2 linked regions of the Homo sapiens genome follow. The main gene of each other region encodes a partner of the protein of the gene in region 2 in a complex. Each region holds a gene or a part of one and is shown on either strand. Other genes may lie near its edges. The genes, in order: MAGOHB and UPF3B.

Region 1 (10,418 bases), on a different chromosome or scaffold from region 2:
ACAGAATGGAGAATTAGCTAAGATGCTCTAACAGCCATAAAACCTTTGACTTGATACAAAAGGCAATTTCTGAAGCATGCCTACTCCTCCCCACTAACCAAAACCCATGAACACATCCTTAAGTGAATAGATAAAATACTAGGCTCTCCCTGAGTCTAAATGATATAAAAGGTTAGCTGCTGTGGTTTGCTTTTTAGTACATATGTGTATCTGCATAAAACAAACTGAGGCCTAAATTTACTTTTTAAAAGTGATACGATGCTTAAAATAAATACTGTTAACTATTACCTTTGCTTTTCTAAATAATGCTTCTTTAAGCAGAAGACTTAAGTTACTCCTACAGAGTGTCAGCATGTGTTAGATTTCTCCACATTTTCTTCTATTCAAAGAAGGTGATACAAAGTACAATCCTCAGGGATATACAAAAGTGAAATTAAATGTTTCTTCCTTCCAGGGGTTGTTGAAGGAATTTCTCCAAGAGTTGAAAAGACCCAATTCAGAAACCAAACTTTCTTTTTACAGAGTGAAATTAGGCCTTCAGAGTTCTTCAGAAGCCTGAGAAACATCATTTATTCTGAAGGAATATGAGAGGGAAATGCAATCATCAGTTTTAACAAAGAAACCACCAATCAAGTTTCTCTCTGGGGTATAGGGATGCAAGTAAGAATTTTAGAAGTTATGATTTGGCAAAAATAAATTTTACATAGTCATATTCTTAATAAAAGTGATTAACACACAACAGAAATTATTCATAACACTGCATTGTGAAAACATCCTAACGTTGGCTGGGGTGACTACAGAGAAAGATGTCTAAATTTAGAGCTATGCACTGACTCCTTCACTACTAGGAGGTAGCACAGAAAAACAGAACTAAGAGATAAAATTAAAGAGAATTTACCAGGTGCCTATTAAATAGAAAGCCAAAGAATCAACTTAGACTCATTCCAAATAAATAACGGGAAACAAAATAGTATTATCAATTTTTAATATTTATACACTTAAAGAATCACTAAATACAAACCTGTCGGCCAACCCTATCAGGGGGAGGCCACAAAGCATCATCTTCTTTTGTAATTTCACTGTCATCAATAATTCTCTTCAGTTCTTCCATTACACTCTTGTGCACATAAGCCTAAAAATTAATCATAATAAAATGAGATAATGCCCACCTATGTCACCCCTCAACTCAGAAAGAAATGAGTTACAAACCCTGAATATCCAAATAGAGGAATATAGAAAAATTTAATTGATTCCAAAAGTAGAGGAGACAGAATCACTTATCCTTGTTACACTGCTTTTCTTCATCTCTTGCCCTTTCCTTTCACATACATTTTTTCCCTCTTCTCATCATTACCTGTCTTTCAAACACTGTATTCTGCCTTTGCAACACTGAGATCCAAATACCCACAAGTGGTTAACTTGTGTCATCACAAGATCTATAAGGTGAACTGTAATAAATGCAAGTATACTGAGGCAGGAGAATCGCTTGAGCCTGGGAGGCAGAGGTTGCAGTGAGCTGAGATCAAGCCACTGCACTCCAGCTTGGGTAACAGAGCGAGACTCTGTCCCTAAATCAATAAATCAATAAATGCAAGTGTAGTTCACGTCAAGGTTAGTTCTCTGAACTTTCTCATTCCTATGGATGCAAACACTGTATCTAATTTAAATGGAAACTCTTTCAATCTATAAATTGCCTTCTTCTTTACAATATAGCCTTAGATGTACTTTTTTAAATTCAACACAGACTTGAAGAAAATGGGCTAAATGCAAAAAAAAAAAAAAAAAAAAAAAAGACATTCACATAGAACTTACCTCTTTTCTGATCATGACATCATTTTTGTAATTGCTGTTGTTGGCATATCTAAGCTTTCCTGTGGGAAGTGGAAAAAAATCAATTTATAATAGCAAAAACTGCTAAAAAAATTAACATCATATACAATTTTGAAGGTAAAGACCATTTTATACTACTATTTTTATTAATATTTCCTCCCTCCTTGTGTAAGATCATTGCTAGACATGTAGACAATAAATGTTTGCTGGTTAAGTTTGCTGAAGTTGAAGCTAGCCAAATATTTAAACAGCCCATGCCTACAATATATATTGGGTCATTTTTAAGGCCTATTTTCTTAAGCTACATCATGAACTAGAAAGAGAATCTGCAAAAGGCACTAAGATTCCTTTAAAGTTTGTTATATGTCTGTATCGGTGCTAAGTGCCTCACCCAGAGCATTTAATCTAATCTGTAAAACAATCCCAAAAATCGGGTTTTATTCTCTCACCTATTCATAGGAGAGAAAACAAAGTTAAGTAACTTAACCAGGGTCACACAAGATTCAGATCTAGATCTACTTTCTTTCAATACTCAGGCTTTCCCCACTACACCAAAATGTTCTCTTTTAAAAATTTTTTTCCTTCAAATGTATGCATGCAATTATAATGCAGACATTTTAGAATTATGACTAGGAAGCATACAAACGATGCTTCTGGATCAAAGTTGATGAGTTTGTTAGCTAGTTTATATTTAATTTTAATCCATCATGATTGCTGTATTATCTGATGTATGCTTCCCCTTATGGCTAGTCAGTTGCCCAGACACAGCTATAATGTGCAACAGGTACTCTAAAATGATAGAAATGACAGTCTTTGATGGCTTGGCACCAGGCACAGTGGCTCATGCCTGTAATCCCAGCAATTTGGGAGGCTGAGATGGGTGGATCACCTGAGGTCAGCAGTTAGAGACCAGCCTGGCCAACATGGAGAAACCCCGTCTCTACTAAAAATACGAAAAAATAGCCAGGCATGGTGGCCCATGCCTGCAATCCCAGCTACTCGGGAGGATGAGGCAGGAGAATCGCTTCAATCCACGAGGCGGAGGTTGCAGTGAGCCGAGATCGCACCACTGCACTGCAGCCTGGACGACAGAGCAAGACTCTGTCTCAAAAAAAAAAAAAAAAAAAAAAAAAAAAGAAAAGAAACGCGTCTTCGGGAGGCTCAATATCACCAATGGAAGTATGTGTAACAGTGTAGTGGCAGATACATTGATTAGAACCACTGTTCTAGCATAAAACTTCCCTGATAATATTCAGGTACTTAATTCATGTGACCTGCTAAAAGTGATAGGGACAAGCTTGATGGTGTTCGCAGGCAGAGGAACTGAAAATAATACTACATAAAGAATAGATGAATTCAGGTAAATTTAGCTGAATTTATGGGGACGGTAAGGTTAAATACAGTGATTAAGGTTTCTAAATAATTGCAGGGCTGGCCCGGTGGCTCATGCTTGTAATCCCAGGACTGTGGGTGGCTGACGCTGGTGGATCCCTTGACCTCAGGGGTTTGAAGCCAGCCTGGGCAACATGGGGAAACCCATCTCTACAAAAAATAACATAACATAACATAACATAACATAACATAACATAACATAACATAACATAACATAATTAGCTGGGTGAGGTGGCGTGGGCCTGTATTCCCAGCACCTCGGCAGGCTGAGGTGAGGGATCACTTGCACTAGGGAGGGGGAGGTTGCAGTGAGCTGAGATCGTGCCACTGCACTCAGATCTGGGTGACAGAGTGAGACCTTGTTTCAAAATAATAATAATAATAATAATTGCAGGACTGTAGTTAACGTGAGTTCTGCCTGAAATGCTTGATACTCTTCTCCTTTCCTAATATACGTTCCTTCTCTAATTTTTTATTCTTGCTCTCACAGAACATTGTCCAAAGCCTGCTTATAGGACTTAATATGCATACTGCTTTATAGTTAAATGTCTGTGCCTCCCACCAAGACAAATCTGCTTTAGTTAAATTTGTCTTACTCATTACTGTACCTTAAAATTTTGTATTTGCTTGTTGTCCAGCACAAAACGTGCATTCAAAAAAACCCAAAAAATATATATCCAAATGAACTTTCTTGTTGCAGGTAGGCAAGATCAATGTAACATTCTCTAAGGATAGCGCTGTCAGAAAACACACTGTTGCACACTACTTGGGTAGCAGTTTCACCTCATCCTCTGCTCATACTGCTCTGGAAGTCTGTTTTTTTCTCTCAAAGGCCAAGTCTCTCATTTCGAGACTCATCTCAAGAGTGCCGTCCTCTAAGAAGATCTTCCTGACTCCCTCCTGTGGAACTTTACCTCTCCCCTCTTGCTTGGTACTCTTCATGCGTCCTATGGTGAACAATTACACGTAAACACCTAAAACATATTATTATTCTCATTTGTTAACACGTTGGGCTCCTCCCCTTCAAAGAAAACACACAGCCTAAATGAAAAAAAGGTACTGGTCACCACAAGATTTTATTCATCCACTGGACCACCCGCTGGTGGGGGTGTTTTCAAAAAAGTGCTAGCATTTTCAATCAGGGCGACGATCTAGAGTCCCTTCTGGTGCACTGTTACAGAATTCTGATTACTGTAGGTTCAACTTTTCAGTTTGTGACAGGATTAGCTTTAATTTATTGCAATTAATTCTCTTTCATTTATAAAACCAACTTATGCCTCCTCTATTCTTAAGCTCCTATTTCCTTCGAGGGAAGCAGTGGCCTCCGCCGCCTGTACCCTCCACACCACCCGGCCTCTCGGTCTCGCTCCCCTTTCCCAGCACCGCGTGCCGTGGGCCTCTTCTCACCGTCCGGCCGAAATTCGAACTCCAGAAACTCGTGCCCAAACTTGCCCTTGTGCCCTACGTAGTAGCGCAGGTAGAAATCGCTAGCCACAGCCATTTTTGTACCCGGGAAGCCCGCCGAAAACGCAGCCAACGTGTCCCCCGGCGCCTTGCAGTGACGTCATCGCGCGGAATAAGTGCGTCACCACAGGCGCTTCTCTTCCTCCTGCAGTGCAGCCCTAGACTAAAGCGTGAAAGCCGAGTATCGCGTGAGAGTCCGGAGGCGCTGAAGGGAGGGTCGCAGCGCCGTGACTTTCGCTTTACTAGGAATGGAGGCACATTGTTTTCAAAATAAAGATTACATTATACTAGCAAAGATTAGAAATGTGAGCATATGATAGTCTTTTTTATGGACTTAGAGCTAAAGGTTTGCAAGTCACTTTTACTTTTCTGGTCTCCCAATCCTTGCGGCGTTTGTGAGGTGGGTGTGGCTCTATGCCCCCTTTAACTGTGAGCTAAATAAAGATAAAGCTTAGAATCGAAATGGCAGACCGGGAATATAAACTATTTTTCTTACTTAATTTCTAACAGGGTGCTTTCCCTTTGGATAGCGATTGGTAGTTACCCGGGACCTCTAAGCCTATAATAATAGAGACAAAGTCAAAGGAATCCAACTCTTAAAACCCTCACACCCCCCACACCTGAAAAACCCTGACAGTCACCGTGCTTTTTTTAACAGCAGAACTTCTAAGGTTCTTAATTCATTCAATAAGGGTTAACTTTTAGTAGCCTGTGAAGTTTTGGCAATTTGACTTACGATACAATAATGGTTTAGCCCATTATTGTTTCTCGCCAGATAGAATTAAATTGGGGGAATGAAAGAATGCTCCAGTGTGGCGTAGTTTTTAAGGTAAGGGAAAGACTTTTACACAAAGTTTCCTTTTCAGATATTATTGATCACCCTTTTGTTATCAACACACAGAGTAATCCTATCTGTCGGTTGACAACCTTCAGTGATTTTTAGTAGAAAGTGGTGGAGAGAAGACCTGGGATTCAATCCCAACACTTAACAGCTAACTAACCTCGGGCAAGTGACTATCTCTAAGCCTGTTTGTTCATCAGCCTAATGCATATACAGCAATCTACATTGCCAAGCTCACAGAATTCTTGAGAGATCTAATGAGATAATATGTAAAATAAGCTTTAAATTTTATAAAACATTAGTTTTAACAAACATTTCCTATGTGACAGTTTGAAACTAGAAATAAGCCATTTGATCTGGTAGTCTAGAAAAGAAAGCAAACACGTAAGGCGAATACCAGCACAAGGGAGCAATTGCTATAATTAAGAATATATGTGCCATCCTGGCCAGCATGGTGAAACCCCGTCTCTATTAAAAATACAAAAAAATTAGCTGGGCGTGGTGGCGCGTGCCTGTAATACCAGATACGCGGGAGGCTGAGGCAGGAGAATTGCTTGAACCCTGGAGGCAGAGGTTTCAGTGAGCTGAGATCGTGCCACTGCATTCCAGCCTGGGCAACAAGAGCGAAACTCTGTCTCAAAAAAAAAAAAAAAAAAAAAAGAAAAAGAAAAGAAAGCCTATATGTGGCCGGGCGCAGTGGCTCATGCCTGTAATCCCAGCACTTTGGGAGGCCAAAGGGGGCAAATCACCCGAGGTCAGGAGTTCAAGACCAGCCTGGCCAACATGGCAAAACCTTGTCTTTACTAAAAATACAAAAATTAGCCAGGTTTGGTGGCACGTGCCTGTAATCCTAGCTACTCAGGAGGCTGAGGCAGGAGAATCGCTTGAACCCGAGAGGCGGAGATCGCGCAGTTGCACTCCAGCCTGGGTGACAAGAGCGAAACTTCGTCTAAAAAAAAAAAAGTGTGTAAAACATGCCGGTAGTACAGCAGAGGAAGCAAGAGCATTCTATTGCAGAGTAGGGAAATTTGAAAAAAGAGTATTGGAAAAGGCTTGTCAACGGAAGTGTTTGAATTGGACCTTGAGAAGTAAGTTCTGTGTATGTTCAGTGGGATGAAAAAGCATTCCAGGCAGAAAATGACCCGAGCAAAGACAGTGGTGTGAAAATTCATGTTTGGGGAACACTAAGAAATTCGGTATAGCTAGAGCATAAGGTTCAAGTAGAATGACTAAAAAGGCAAATTGGGCCACGTTTCCTTGAGTCCATATTAGTAGTTATATAACTATTAATATAGAAAAATGAATCAGTCCCTACAATGGGCCACCATTTTGGAAAGTACGTAAGAAACAGGAAGCACCATGTTTTACCACTAGGGTGACTAGCCGTTCCAGTTTGACCAGGACTGTGGAGTTTCCTGGGAAATGGGACTTTCCATACCTGGAAACACCCAGGCAAACTGAGATGGGTTGGTCACCACACTTACCACAAGAATAATTCACAGAAATTTGAACACTCTATTCCGTAGTATCTCTGGAAATATCAGCTGTAATCCATTTTGTTGAATTATATGGAAAGCCTCATTCAATATCTTAGATTCCCTAATGTCTCTCCTTCAGGTTTTTGGCACATGTGCCAATGTTCATCTTCATGTTTACCTAAATAGAACTATGGATACCAGAATGTGTAACTATATAAATAGAGGTTACAGAATGCACAAAGTATTAACATCTTTGTTAAGTGGGCCAGTTACTGTCTTGATCTCCAAAAATGACATAGGGGTTCAAGACTATAATCCTACCTGTTTGTAAGATAAAATATGAAACTATATTTACTTAACTCTCTATATTTTAAGCCAAAATTTGAACCTTTTGTATTGAAGCAAGAATTACAAAGTGATAAAGCATTTGCGTTGTGTTGTATTCTTGGATGGTACACAACAGTGATGTGGAAATGTTCTTCTGTATGGCTGCTGAGCCCTTGAAATGTGACTACTGTGACTTCGAACTGAATTCTTAATTGTGATTAATTTAGATTAACATTTAAATAAACACATGTGGCTAGAAGCTACTGTGTTGGTCAGCACAGTTAGAATCTTTTCATACACTTTTAGTTGGGCTAGAAATAGCAAAAAAAAAATTGTGAACATTTTCAAATTGCTTGTTGTAGGCTCCAAATTAGGACGTACTTACTGATATCAACACAGTTTACTTATGAAAATAAATATTTGAGCTGCTTAAGTGAAGCCAAAATACTGTTTCCACCTTTGCTAACACAGCGGTAAATTTCAAAGCACAAAGTGAAGTAGGTAAGAAATAAACGTTTTATTTCCATCTGAAATTAGGGCTTAATGATCAAATCATTCTGACTTCCAATTTTCAGAAACATGTTCCATGTTTATTGTGATAAGCACTAGGTATTATAGTCTCATGTTTTTAATTTATGAATAACGTCTGATTCATTTGATTTTGTATTTACAGAAGAAAAGATGTCAGGGCTATCTCATTCAGTTATTAATAAATGGATCAGAGTAGTAAGTCAAGAATAAGTGCATAATGTGGTTTAAATTTTAAAAAATACTCAGAATGAGGTAGTATTTTAATTTTTAATTCATCCACCCACCTTGCTCTTCTCTTTTCCATAATAGACTTCCCTGTGGACGTTAGCCTTATCTGTCTTTTTACCACTTAGTGGTATTAACTTTTTAAGTAAGAGAATCATGATCATGCAGAAACACCAAACTTTCCACACCATTCGTTATCACATATGTTCATATATGGCGAGAACTTGGAGCTACTTCTAGATTACCATGACATGATATATTTAATTCGATTGTTCAATCTAAAATTTTTTTCCAGCAAATGACAATATTATATGCTTCAAACACATAGCATAATCTCTAACTCTTTTCCCCAAAACGGGTAAACACAGTATGCTAAATTAAGGGTAATAGGATATCTTCCAGTCTTCCACTGTATTTGCTACTTATTTATTTCAGTAAGAGTGTTAAAGCAAAATTTAAAAAAATTATTGCAACAGAGTTAAGATTAAGAAATCTTAATTAACTGACTTTTTTTGTTTTAAAATGCTAAAAAAAAACCCACTACTATTATTTGATTTTAATAACAGAATACCTAAATCTGGCATAAAAAAACATAGTGTGCTCCATAAGCATAATTTAAGAACTACTGGTTCAGACTATTCTATTTTAAACGACGTTACCAAGTTTCCCTTAGACACTGTATCTAGGTGGGTGTTTGCGTTGTTCCTAAGTGTTGGAATTTTTTTTTAACAATAAAGCATAGATTGGAAAAACAAGACTGGAAGAGAAGGCAATCAAAACAATACAACAAAATCTATCTAGAGTCAACCCGATTAAATGATAAATATTTTGATTCTTTTTTTCATTCATTAGCTTGGAAACACCTAGTTTGGCTGAAAGGTCAATGATGCCAGAAATATCATCCTCCTTCTGGAAGAAGCCTGGCCAAGTGAGAGAAAGACCCAGTTTTCTTAGAGTAAAAATTACTGTATCCAGTTTTCCGGGCCGGAAAAACAAATAAAATTGGGGGTAAAAAACTTAAATATCAATTGTCTGCTTCTTTCCCTCCTACTAAAAGAAATATGACAGTACAACAAAGCAACCTTCCATTTCACTGTGTTCCACTTTCCCTTAGCTCACCGTGCTGCAACCCATATGCTTTCTTGCAGTTCCTTGCCTCAGAATTTTCACGCACACATGTCCTCCTCCTGGGAGACTCTTCTTATTCGGCCTGGGTTACTTACCCATCCCTAAGGTCTCAGTTTATAGCCCATTTCTGTTCAGGGAAGTGTTCCTTTTAAACTCCCTTCTACTACCCTATGCTTTTTCTTTATAGCACTTAACACTTCGCACTTAACAGATACCCACACAAATAAATGTATAATGTGTCTCACCTTCTAGACTGTAATCAAAAGCTCCCTATTTCTTTTATCCTACACCTAGCCAAGTGTCTGGCACAGCAAGCCTTAACACTCAATATTTTTCAGTGATCAGATAAATAAGTAAATATTTGTAATTTTGACTTAACTGAACAGCTGAGAGGCAACAATGGGATTCCATAGGACTTTGTAATTTTGTGTGAAGCCACTCTTCTGCCCTTCTCCCTACTGCAACTTGCTACCCATTTAAATCCTGACTAGTCATTGTGGTATTCTTACAGCGGCAAGAATCATTATTCCTTTAGCTGACTCATTATGATTCCATCAGGATTCCAACTTCTACAACATTTTTAGCTGCCAGTCATTTTTCTTATGGCAGCCTTAGATGTCCCTTCCAGGGTACCCAAAGTGTTTTTTAAAATTGCAGACTACCATGTTCAACAGAATTGCCCTCATGATGATGTTTTCAATATTTTGTAATAGTAGGAGTCCACTATCATCATCCAAAAGCGTACAAAAATGATGACTTCATCATTGCACATGTATAATATCACTACTTGTGCCATATCATCATCTTTAGGCATGTCCTGCCTTGCAGTGTTAGCGACTGAGTTTCTCTTCTTGGTCACAGTAGATTTTAAATGAAAAATATATGAAAGGTCCTGGGTTAGGAAGGGCAAAAGAAAAGGAGAAACACGTTTATTGAGCGCATATGTGCCAGATAGTGTACAAATACATACTCAAAACGTATCAATCCTCAGAACAACCTTGTGAAATAGGTATTATCCCCATTTACACATAAAGAATCCCTTTTCTGACATTGTACATTATCTCTTGAATTTTTCTATTGGCATTAACTTTCACTTATTTACTTTTATCCTCCCTATGATATTTTTAGTAGTTATAAACCAGAAAAGCATATTTCCATTTAATAAATATTAATTTAATAAAATAAGTTTCACAGTATATCAA
Region 2 (9,954 bases):
CCTAAGCCCTCATTTACTATGAATTTAGAGGACAATAGTCTAAAAATCCAACATTTTCAATGACAAAAACAGCACAGATCTGCACTGAAGAAATAACATACTACTTTATCCTTTTAAATGATCTTAAATTTAAAAACTAATACTATTACAGGAAAGATTTTTATTGGATCACTTCCCCCCAAAAGAGAACAAAAACAAAACAAAAAATTCATTTACACCAACACAAGACGCATGCATATTTAAAGAAGTAGATACGTGCAATTTTTAGCAACATGCAGTCAGTTTCAACATTCTTATACCTTAATCTTTGGTTCATCCTTTAATTTGTCCCTTTCTGGAATTCTGTCTATCTTCTTTAGCTTTTCTATATCTTTCCTTTTTCGTTTCTCTTCTTCTTTCCATTTCCTCCTCTCTTCTTCTCTTTGTCTTTTTCTTTCTATTTCTCTCCTCCTCCTTTCTTCTCTCTTTTCTTCTCTCATTCTCTAGAAAGAAACATCAACACAAGCCTTCAAATAAAATAATCATCACCAAAACCCTAATAAATCCTGAAGTCATGGTAGGCCCCAACTGAATAATCTTTCCTTCCTACTTTCTACAAAGTGGCATTCTACCACCGTTATCCCCACTCCACCCAGAAAACGAAAGACAATGAAGACCAGAACCTGCTAATATTATTCTTCCACTGCTGCCTTACTATCTCTCCAGAGGCTTTCAGAATATCAAATGAGTGTCTCTGGGACAACCTAAGAACATTCCACGTTTGTAGAGTGAACTCCTGGTCCAACAACCAGAGTGAAGGAGCAGGCTAGAGAGTGAGACCAAGAAGGCAAATCCTTAAAGAGTAATGGTGGAAAAAGCAGCTATTTCTCCTCTAGAAACCCAATGCTCTTAAAATGTTTATAGAATGCAAAGCAAAGAAATTAAAGTATTGAGAGAACTATAAAGACAAAAGATTTACCTGCTTGTTTTTCAGGAAGCTCAAAAGTGGGGTTGTCTTTTTAGCTACATAAATGTAAACAGATTATTAATCATACTTATCAACCCCTAGAAACGATTCCATTTTCTGACATTCCCTGCCAACCACCCAAGGTGGGAAAACATGTACACCCCTTATGCAGAAAGATCACAATTGTAATATCAGAAAGAAGTTTTACAGCATTCGATTTCAACAATACGGGATTAAAATACCTTTTAAAAAGTAAAGAAATTCAAATTAAAACAACAAAATAATTTATTAAAAGAGTCATTCCCAACTGATGAGAATTAAGTACTTAGGACATTCTCTTGTTTTACTGATAGGAGTGTAAACTTGTTCAACTGGAAGAAGTTGGGGGGAAGGGGCTAAAAATATCTAATCCTTTTGACCCCATAATTCCACTTCTGGGAATTTATTCTAAGAAAGTTACCAGAAATAGGCTTGTACTATCCATCTATTAATAAAAGTCAAGTTTTGGAAGAATATTTTTCATTTTCAACATTCTGAATAAGCTATTGGCCTTACAGCCATCTTAAAACACATATTCCTGGCCGGGCACAGTGGCTCATGCCTGTAATCCCAGCACTTTCAGAGGCCAAGGCAGGCGGATCACTTGAGGTCAGGAGTTCGAGATCAGCCTGGCCAACATGGTGAAACCCCGGCTCTACTAAAAATACAAAATTGGCCGGGCGTGGTGGCGGACACCTGTACTTCCAGCTACTCGGGAGACTGCGGCAGAATCGCCTGAACCCAGGAGGCGGAAGTTGCAGTGAGCCGAGATTGCGACACTGCACTCCAGCCTGGGCGACAGAGCAAGACTCCATCTCTCACACACACACACACACACACACATACACACACACACACACACACACACAGAGAGAGAGCGAGCGAGCAAGCAAGCAAAAAAAACAAACAAACAAACAAAAAAACCCCACATATTCCTTAGGATAAATTCCTGAGTAGAAATCCTGGGTCAAAGATTATGCTCATGTTTAGAGCTACTGATACAGTAGTGACAGCCTATTACTGAGAACCAAGATCCAAGCTAGAATTCCTCAAGTAGTTTTCAATTTTGCAGTAACTAATTTCATTTTTTCGTATTTTCAAGTCAAAATTTTTTTAGGAATATGAACTTATTACTAGAAAATACCAATTGACCTTCAAAGGCTTACCACTGTCTAAACATTCCTTATCAGTCATCGAACTTTTTGTATTTATATTACATTTGTGTGAAACTAAATAGGTCAAAGAATTTTTCCCACTTTAATGGATTCTCATAATGCTGTGAGGCAGGTATTACCATCTGCAATTTACAGTAACAGTCTCAGAGAAACTAGTAACTTCCCTGAAGTCACACAGCTAGCAACTGATGGAGGTAGGAGACTTAGGTACTGTGATGAAAAGACTGTTGCCCTGATTCTTTTTGCCCACTTACCTATTAATTCTCTATTTTTTGCTTCTATTTCCTCTAGCAGTGTCTCTGGAGTAGATGTCATTTTCTCATTATCTGTGGCATAACTTTCCAAAAACTTTCTATATTCTGGATCTAAATAATCATTTGAGGAAACAGAAAATATAATAGACTTTAAACAAAAAAAGAAGACATTATCTACAATACTGATTTATCAAAGAAGATAATTTTTTACTTCGTGGAAGATTAAAAAAAACCAAACCATACCCACAAGGTAGACTATTTAGAGCTTAATTGGTCACTTGCTCTCAGGACTCCTATCACTGATACTCACTATAGGAATCTGGTATAACATGGGGTCAGGAAAAATGAGACGCCATGCATTATAACAGAACCACTAGGGGTATTACATAGTTTGCTTTTAAAAGTCACTGTCCTACTAAACTAAGTTAGGTGTTCCAAAAAGATAAATTAGAGAGAAGTCCTAGATGTGGCACTTGAGGTGATGGGAATTCCTGGAGTTCTCTCCTAGACCTCTAACATCAGAAAGGGTGACACATCTAAGCCATTATATTGCTTGTTTCTATGTGTCACTTGATCAAGTCTTCCAGATCTAAATCTGTAATAAAACCAGTATCACAGCTATGTGTTATTGAGTCCTTACCGTGTTTTCTTTATAAAATACCTGTAATAGTAACAAATGATGGAAATTAAACTAGATGATTCTAAAGTAACAATCTGATATAAAATATGGTCCTAGTCCTTATCCAACATAAAGAGTTGTGTAACAGCTATCTAACATAACATTACAGAGGTCTCAAAATCTGGAGCCAGTGTACCTTAAATGGCAATTATTTTGGTTTTTCAGTTCTTGTATTTCTTTCTTTCTTTCTTTTTTTTTGAGACGGAGTTTTGCTTTTGTTGTCCAGGCTGGAGTGCAATGGTGCGGTCTCAGCTCACTGCAACCTCCGCCTCCCGGGTTCAAGTGATTCTTCTGCCTCAGCTTCCCAAGCAGCTGGGATTACAGGTGCCCGCCACCATGCCTAGCTAATTTTTGTGTTTTTAGTAGAGATGGGGTGTCACCATGTTGGCCAGGCTGGTCTCGAACTCCTGACCTCAGCAACTCTGCCCGCCTTGGCCTCCCAAAGTGCTGGGATTATAGGAGTGAGCCACCGCGCCTGGCCTCAGTTCTTCTATTCCTGTTCAACCTAATACTATGTGTGTAGCTAATTGTATATCCAAAGACCAGAAAATAGGAGTGACAACTTCAGCTACTTTATACAAAGTTACCTGGGTATGGAAATTTTCCCATGACAGTTCAAACCTTCTTCTTTATAAATATAATGGAAACCAAAAGTCAAATAAATAATCATAAAAATGGTGAGGCCTCAAGAAGCACCTGTTAAACTTTGAAACCTGATTTTTTTCCACTATTTTCTTTTTCTTTTTTTTTTGAGATGGAGTTTCGCTCTTGTTGCCCAGGCTGGAGTGCAATGGTGTGATCTCAGCTCACTGCAACCTCCGCCTCCTGGGTTCAAGAGATTCTCCTGCCTCAGCCTCCCGAATAGCTGGGATTACAGGCATGCACCACCATACCCGGCTAATTTTATATTTTTAGTAGAGACAGGGTTTCTCCATGTTGGTCAGGCTGGTATCAAACTCCTGACCTCAGATGATCCGCCCGCCTTGGCCTCCCAAAGTACTGGGATTATAGGCGTGAGCCACCACGCCTGGCCTTTCCACTATCTTCTAATCAATAAACCTATGGTGATTTGTTACTCAATAGTCAACATTATATTGTTCAATGGTTGAAGAATGAAATGCCCTAGCCAAAGAGAGCAGAGATTCTGTGCAAGAAACTCTCTCTAGTCTAACAATTAAGCAAAGCTTCCATCGGCAAATAACATTTCTCACTTACTTTATTTTGTATATTTTCTAATTTAAAATTTTGGGGTCGAATTAACTCTCACAAAGATATTATTTTTAAAAACCCCACAGCAATAGCATTATATAATTAGAGCTATACTGTACCATCATCGATAGTCCCGACTTTGGTATCTCTTTTCTTAGTCTTCTTTTTTGCAGCTTTTTGAAAAGGTGCAAATTCTACTATAGCGGGATATTCCTGACCTGTTTAGAAAAAAAATACCACACTTGCTATAACAAAGAAAATGTCAAAAGTGGATATAAGGGAATCAACCCATTGCTTTCTATGACTCTTTTGATGGCAGTCATCTGAAGAGGGTCTCCCAAAGGCATAAAGCACACTGGCACAACCATAATCAACATACTACAAAAGGAGCCACAAATTCACACTGATAACATAGTGAAACAACACGGCATGAAAGTAAAATATTCATATAAATTCAACTTATAAAATGTGATATTTTAATGTGAAAAAGACCCTACAAACTATTTTTCATTTTAAAATGTTAGAAATCTCCAAAATAGGCAAATCTATAGAGACAGAACGTAGAGTAGTAGCTGCCTGGAGTTTGGGGTAGAAGTGGTGAGAAGAATGAGGAGTGACAACTAATGGGTGGGGTTTCTCTTAGGGGTGATGAACATGTTCTAAATTTAGATTGTGGTGATAGGCTCATAAGCCTATGAATATACTAAAATTCACTGAACTGTATACTTTAAAAGGGTGACTATTTCAGGCATGTGAATTATATCTCAATAAAGCTGTTATTTTTTAAAAGTGTAACTATTTGAGGTGATGTGTTATGTGAGGTGATGAATGTGTTAACTTGATTGTATATATTTCATAATGTATATATGTATACATTATGTATACATTTCATAATGTATATATGTATACAATATGTATACATTTCATAATGTATACATTTCATAATGTATACATATATAAAATTATCACGTTGGGCTGGGCACCGTGGCTTATGCCTATAATCCCAGCATTTTGGGAGGCCGAGATGAGAGGATCACCTGAGGTCAGAAGTTTGAGACCTGCCTGGCCAACATGGTGAAACACTGTCTCTACTAAAAATACAAAAATTAGCTGGGCGTGGTGGCACGTGCCTGCAATCCCAGCTACTCTGGAGGCTGAGGCATGAGAATCACTTGAACCCAGGAGGCAGAGATTGCAGTGAGCCGAGATCATGCCACTGCACTCCAGCCTGGGCGACAGAGTAAGACTCCGTCTCAAAAAAATAAATACATAAAAATAAAAATAAATAAAAATACAAAAATTAGCCAGGCGTGATAGTGCACGCCTGTAATCCCAGCTACTTGGGAGACTGAGGCAGGAGAATCACTTGAACCTGGGAGGCGGAGGTTGCAGTAAGCTGAGATTGTGCCACTGCACTCGAGCCTGGTAAAAAAAAAAAAAAAAAAAGAAAAAGAAAAAAGAAAAAACAATTATTACATAGTAAAATTTAAATATATATTATTTTATTTGTCAATTATAGCTCAATAAAGCTGGGGAAAAATCTGTTAACACTTAAAAAAAAATACACCAGGACACCAAAAGCACAGGCAACAAAAGTAAAAATACAGAGGGTAGATCTCATGTTAAGTGTTCTTACCACAATAAAACAAAAATATAAAGTATATCTCTTATTTAAAAAAAGTAAAAAATAGATAAATTGGACTACGTCAAAATTAGAAACTTCTATGCATCAAAAGACACAATCAACAGAGTGAAAAGGCAACCCATGGAATGGGAGAAATATTTGCAAATTATATTATCTGATAAGGGGTAATATCGAGAATATATAAAGAACTCCTATAACTCAACAACAAAAAACCAAATAACCCAATTTAAAAAATGGTCAAAAGACTTGAATAGACATTTCTTCAAAGATAATATACAAATGGCTAACAAGCATATGGAAATATGTTCCACATTACTAGTCATTAGGGAAATGCAAATCAAAACCACAATGAGGTATCATCTCACGCCTATTAGGAGGACTACTATCAAAAAGCAGAAAATAACAAGTGTTGGCAAAGATGTGGAGAAACTGGAACACTCATGTATTGGTGGGAATGTAAAATGATGCAGCTGCATGGAAAACAGTATGGCAGTTCCATAAAACATTAAAAATAGAATTATTGGGCCAGCCTGACTAACATGGTAAAACCCCATCTCTACTAAAAATACAAAAATTAGCTGGGTGTGGTGGTGGGCACCTGTAATCCCAGCTACTCAGGAGGCTGAGGCAGGAGAATTGCTTGAACCCAGGAGGTGGAGGTTGCAATGAGGGAAGATCGCGCCATTGTACTTACTCCAGCCTGGGCAATGAGGGCGAAATTCCATCTCAAAAAAACAAAACAAAACAAAAAAGAACTACCGGCGGGGCACAGTGGCTCACACCTGTAACCTCAGCACTTTGAGAGGCCGAGGTGGGCGCATCACTTGAGGTCAGGAGTTTGAGACCAGCCTGGCCAACATGGTGAAACTCCGTCTCTACCACAAACATAAAAAATTAGCAGGGTGTGGTGGCAGGTGTCTGTAATCCCAGATACTTGGGAGGCTGAGGCAGGAGAATTGCTTGCACCTGGGAGGTGGAGGTTGCAGTGAGCCAAGATCATGCCACTGCACTCCAGCCTGTGTGACAGAGACTCTGTCTCAAAATAAATAAATAATAAAATAAAAATAGAATTACCAAATGACTCCAGAAATTCCATTTCTCGGTATATATCCAAAAGCAGTGAGAACAAGGACTCGAATATGTGCACATCTGTGTTCATAACAATATTGTTCACAATAGCCAAGAGTGGAAGCAACTCGAATACCCCTTGACAGATGAATGGATACACAAAATGTGGTATATACATATACTGGAATATTAGTCTTAAAAATGAGGCTGGGGGCAGTGGCTCATGCCTGTAATTCCTAGCATTTTGGGAGGCTGAGGCAGGCATGTCACTTCAGGTCAGGAGTTTGAAACTAGCCTGGCCAACACAGTGAAACCCCATCTTTACCAAAAGTACAAAAAAATTAGCCAGCTGTGGTGGTGGGTACCTGTAATCCCAGCTACTTGGGAGGCTGAGGCTGGAGAATTGCTTGAACCCAGGAAGCGGAGGTTGCAGTGAGCTGAGATCGCGCCACTGCATTCCAGCCTGGGCAACAAAGTGAGACTCCATCTCAAAAAAAAAAAAAAAAAAAAAAAAGATGAAAATTCTGACACATGCTACGACATGGATACACCTTGAAGATATTATGCTAAATGAAATAAGCCAGACAGACACTGTATGTTTCCACCTATATGTGGTACCTACAGTAGTGAAACTCATACAGACACAAGGTATAATGGTGGTTGCCAGGGGCTGGAGGAAGGGAAATAAGGAGTTGTTTAATGGGTAAAGAGTTTCAGTTTTTCAAGATGAAAAAGTTCCCAAGATTGTTGCACAACAGTGTGAATATACCTTAATGCTACTGAACTGTACACTTAAAATGGTTAAGATGGTAAATTTTATGTTACGTGTATTTTTACAATTTTTAAAAATGCAAAAGGAATGAGGTAATGATATATGTTATATGTTACAACATGGATGGACCTTGAAAACATTGTGCTAGGTAAAAGAAGCCAGTCAGAAAAGACCACATATTGTATGATTACATTTATATGAAATGGAGGGAAATCATAGATACATAAAGTAGATTAGTGGTTGCCAGGGGCTGGAGGGAGAGAATGGGAGGTAACTACTAATAGATATGGGTTTCTTTTTGGAGGGATGAAAACATTCTGGAATTAGTACTGATGGTTGTACTACCTTGTGAATATACCAGAAACCACTGAATTGTACGCTTTAAGAGGATGAATTTTATTATAGGTGAGTTATATTTCAATACAAAAACCCCAAGTGACTAATGGGAAAAAAATTCACAAGCACCCTGTCACAGAATGTCAAAAACAAGGTATCCTATCCTTAAATCATTGGCATGTAGACATAAGCAGAAAAATAAAAATAAACAGAATTGACCAGAAGGCACTGCAAAGCAGTCATGGAGGAAAAATTATGTTGGGAATCCCAGTGAGTAGAGAATCAGATTAGCTTCAAAACTGTGATATATTAGGCCAGGCATGGTGGCTCACGCCTGTAATCCCAGCACTTTGGGAGGCTGAGGCGGGTGGATTGCTTGAGGCCAGGAGTTTGAGACCAGCCTGGCCAACATGGTGAAACCCCATCTCCTAAAATTACAAAAATTAGCTGGGCGTGGCGGCACACACCTGTAATCCCAGCTAAGTCGGCAGGCTGAGGAACGAGAATTGCTTGAACCCAGGAGGCGGAGGTTGTAATGAGCCAAGATTGTGCCACTGTACTCCAGCCTGGGCGACAGAGTTAAGACTCTGTCTCAAAAAAAAAAAGAGAGAGAGAGAGAAGAAAAAGAAAAAAAACAAAAATAAAAACCAAAAAACAAAACTGTGATATATTTGAGAAGGAATAGATAAACCAGACTGAAACAGAGGGAAATTGTGGAAGACAGGCTGAAGAAACAGAAGTGAGGCCAGAATATGGAGGACCCTGACTACCAGGCTAAGGAGTTTGGACTTTTTCCCCCAACTGTTAATTTAAATCATTATTTTCAAAAAGATTAATTTCATGGCAATATAATAGACTGAATTATACAAGAATGAAAAAAATGGAAAATCCTGTAAGTTTAGAGACAGTGGTTGTCTAGGCATTAAGTGATGAGGACATAAAGTGTGACTGTTTAAGGCTAGGTGAACAAGATATTAAAAAAAAACAATAAAATCCAGCCTGGGCAACATAAGCAGACCTTGTCTCTAAGATTTAAAAACAAAACAAAACAAACAAACAAACAAAAAACACAATGAGGAAAGGATAGTCTCTTTAATAAGTGGTGTTGAGCTGGGTATGGTGGCTCGCACCTGTAATCCCAGCACTTTGGGAGGCTGAGGTGGGGGGGGGGAAATCACTTGAGCCCAGGAGTTCAAGACCAGCCTGGGCAACGTAGTGAGACCCCATCTCTATAAAAAATTTAAAGAAAATTAGCCAGGCATGGTGACATACATCTGTAGTCCCAGCTACTCAGGAGGCTGAGGTGGGAGGATTGCTTGAGTCCAGGAATTCCAGGCTGCAGTGAGCTCTGATTGCGCCACAGCACTCCAGCCTGGGTGGAGACCCTATCTCAAAAGATAAACAATAAATTGACAAGATTCATAACTTACATGTAAGAGATTTTTAAAAAAGGAAAAAATTAAACACAACTCAGATTTCCAGGCTAAGTAACTAGAATCTAGTTAAATATCTACTGGAATAAAATAGTTGGAGTGGAAAAATAGCTGGCTTGGGGAGATTAATAAAAGTTGGACAAACAGTGGCAATCCTTCAATTTTTACTGGCATAGTCCCTGACAAAAATTTAATTTTTACCAACTTTGAAGTAATATTGAAAAAAACAAAACAAAACAAGAAGACACACTATTTACCTATAATTGCAAACCAAAAAGAAAAGTGGCAAATGGCAGCTTAGATATTCTCTGGCTAAATGTAGGTAGCAGATAATAGAGTGTTAAAGTAGAAATGTGTCTTCCCTATAGACTGGACCTTTCTGGATATAAAGTAAGAGA

Evidence for each region.
Region 1: UPF3B (region 2) and MAGOHB share a complex: the UniProt entries of both Homo sapiens proteins name them as parts of the mRNA splicing-dependent exon junction complex.

The regions. Positions count from the first base shown.
Region 1 is NC_000012.12:10,608,810-10,619,227, forward strand, and holds the start of MAGOHB (protein mago nashi homolog 2), read right to left. Parts: upstream 4,801-10,418; 5' UTR 4,724-4,800; coding exon 4,630-4,723; intron 4,170-4,629; exon of another isoform or gene 3,831-4,169; intron 1,872-3,830; coding exon 1,813-1,871; intron 1,133-1,812; coding exon 1,022-1,132; intron 575-1,021; exon of another isoform or gene 289-574; intron 1-288. UniProt on the Homo sapiens protein: Required for pre-mRNA splicing as component of the spliceosome. Plays a redundant role with MAGOH in the exon junction complex and in the nonsense-mediated decay (NMD) pathway.
Region 2 is NC_000023.11:119,840,777-119,850,730, forward strand, and holds part of UPF3B (regulator of nonsense transcripts 3B), read right to left. Parts: intron 4,521-9,954; coding exon 4,422-4,520; intron 2,526-4,421; coding exon 2,415-2,525; intron 1,003-2,414; coding exon 959-1,002; intron 483-958; coding exon 300-482; intron 1-299. UniProt on the Homo sapiens protein: Involved in nonsense-mediated decay (NMD) of mRNAs containing premature stop codons by associating with the nuclear exon junction complex (EJC) and serving as link between the EJC core and NMD machinery.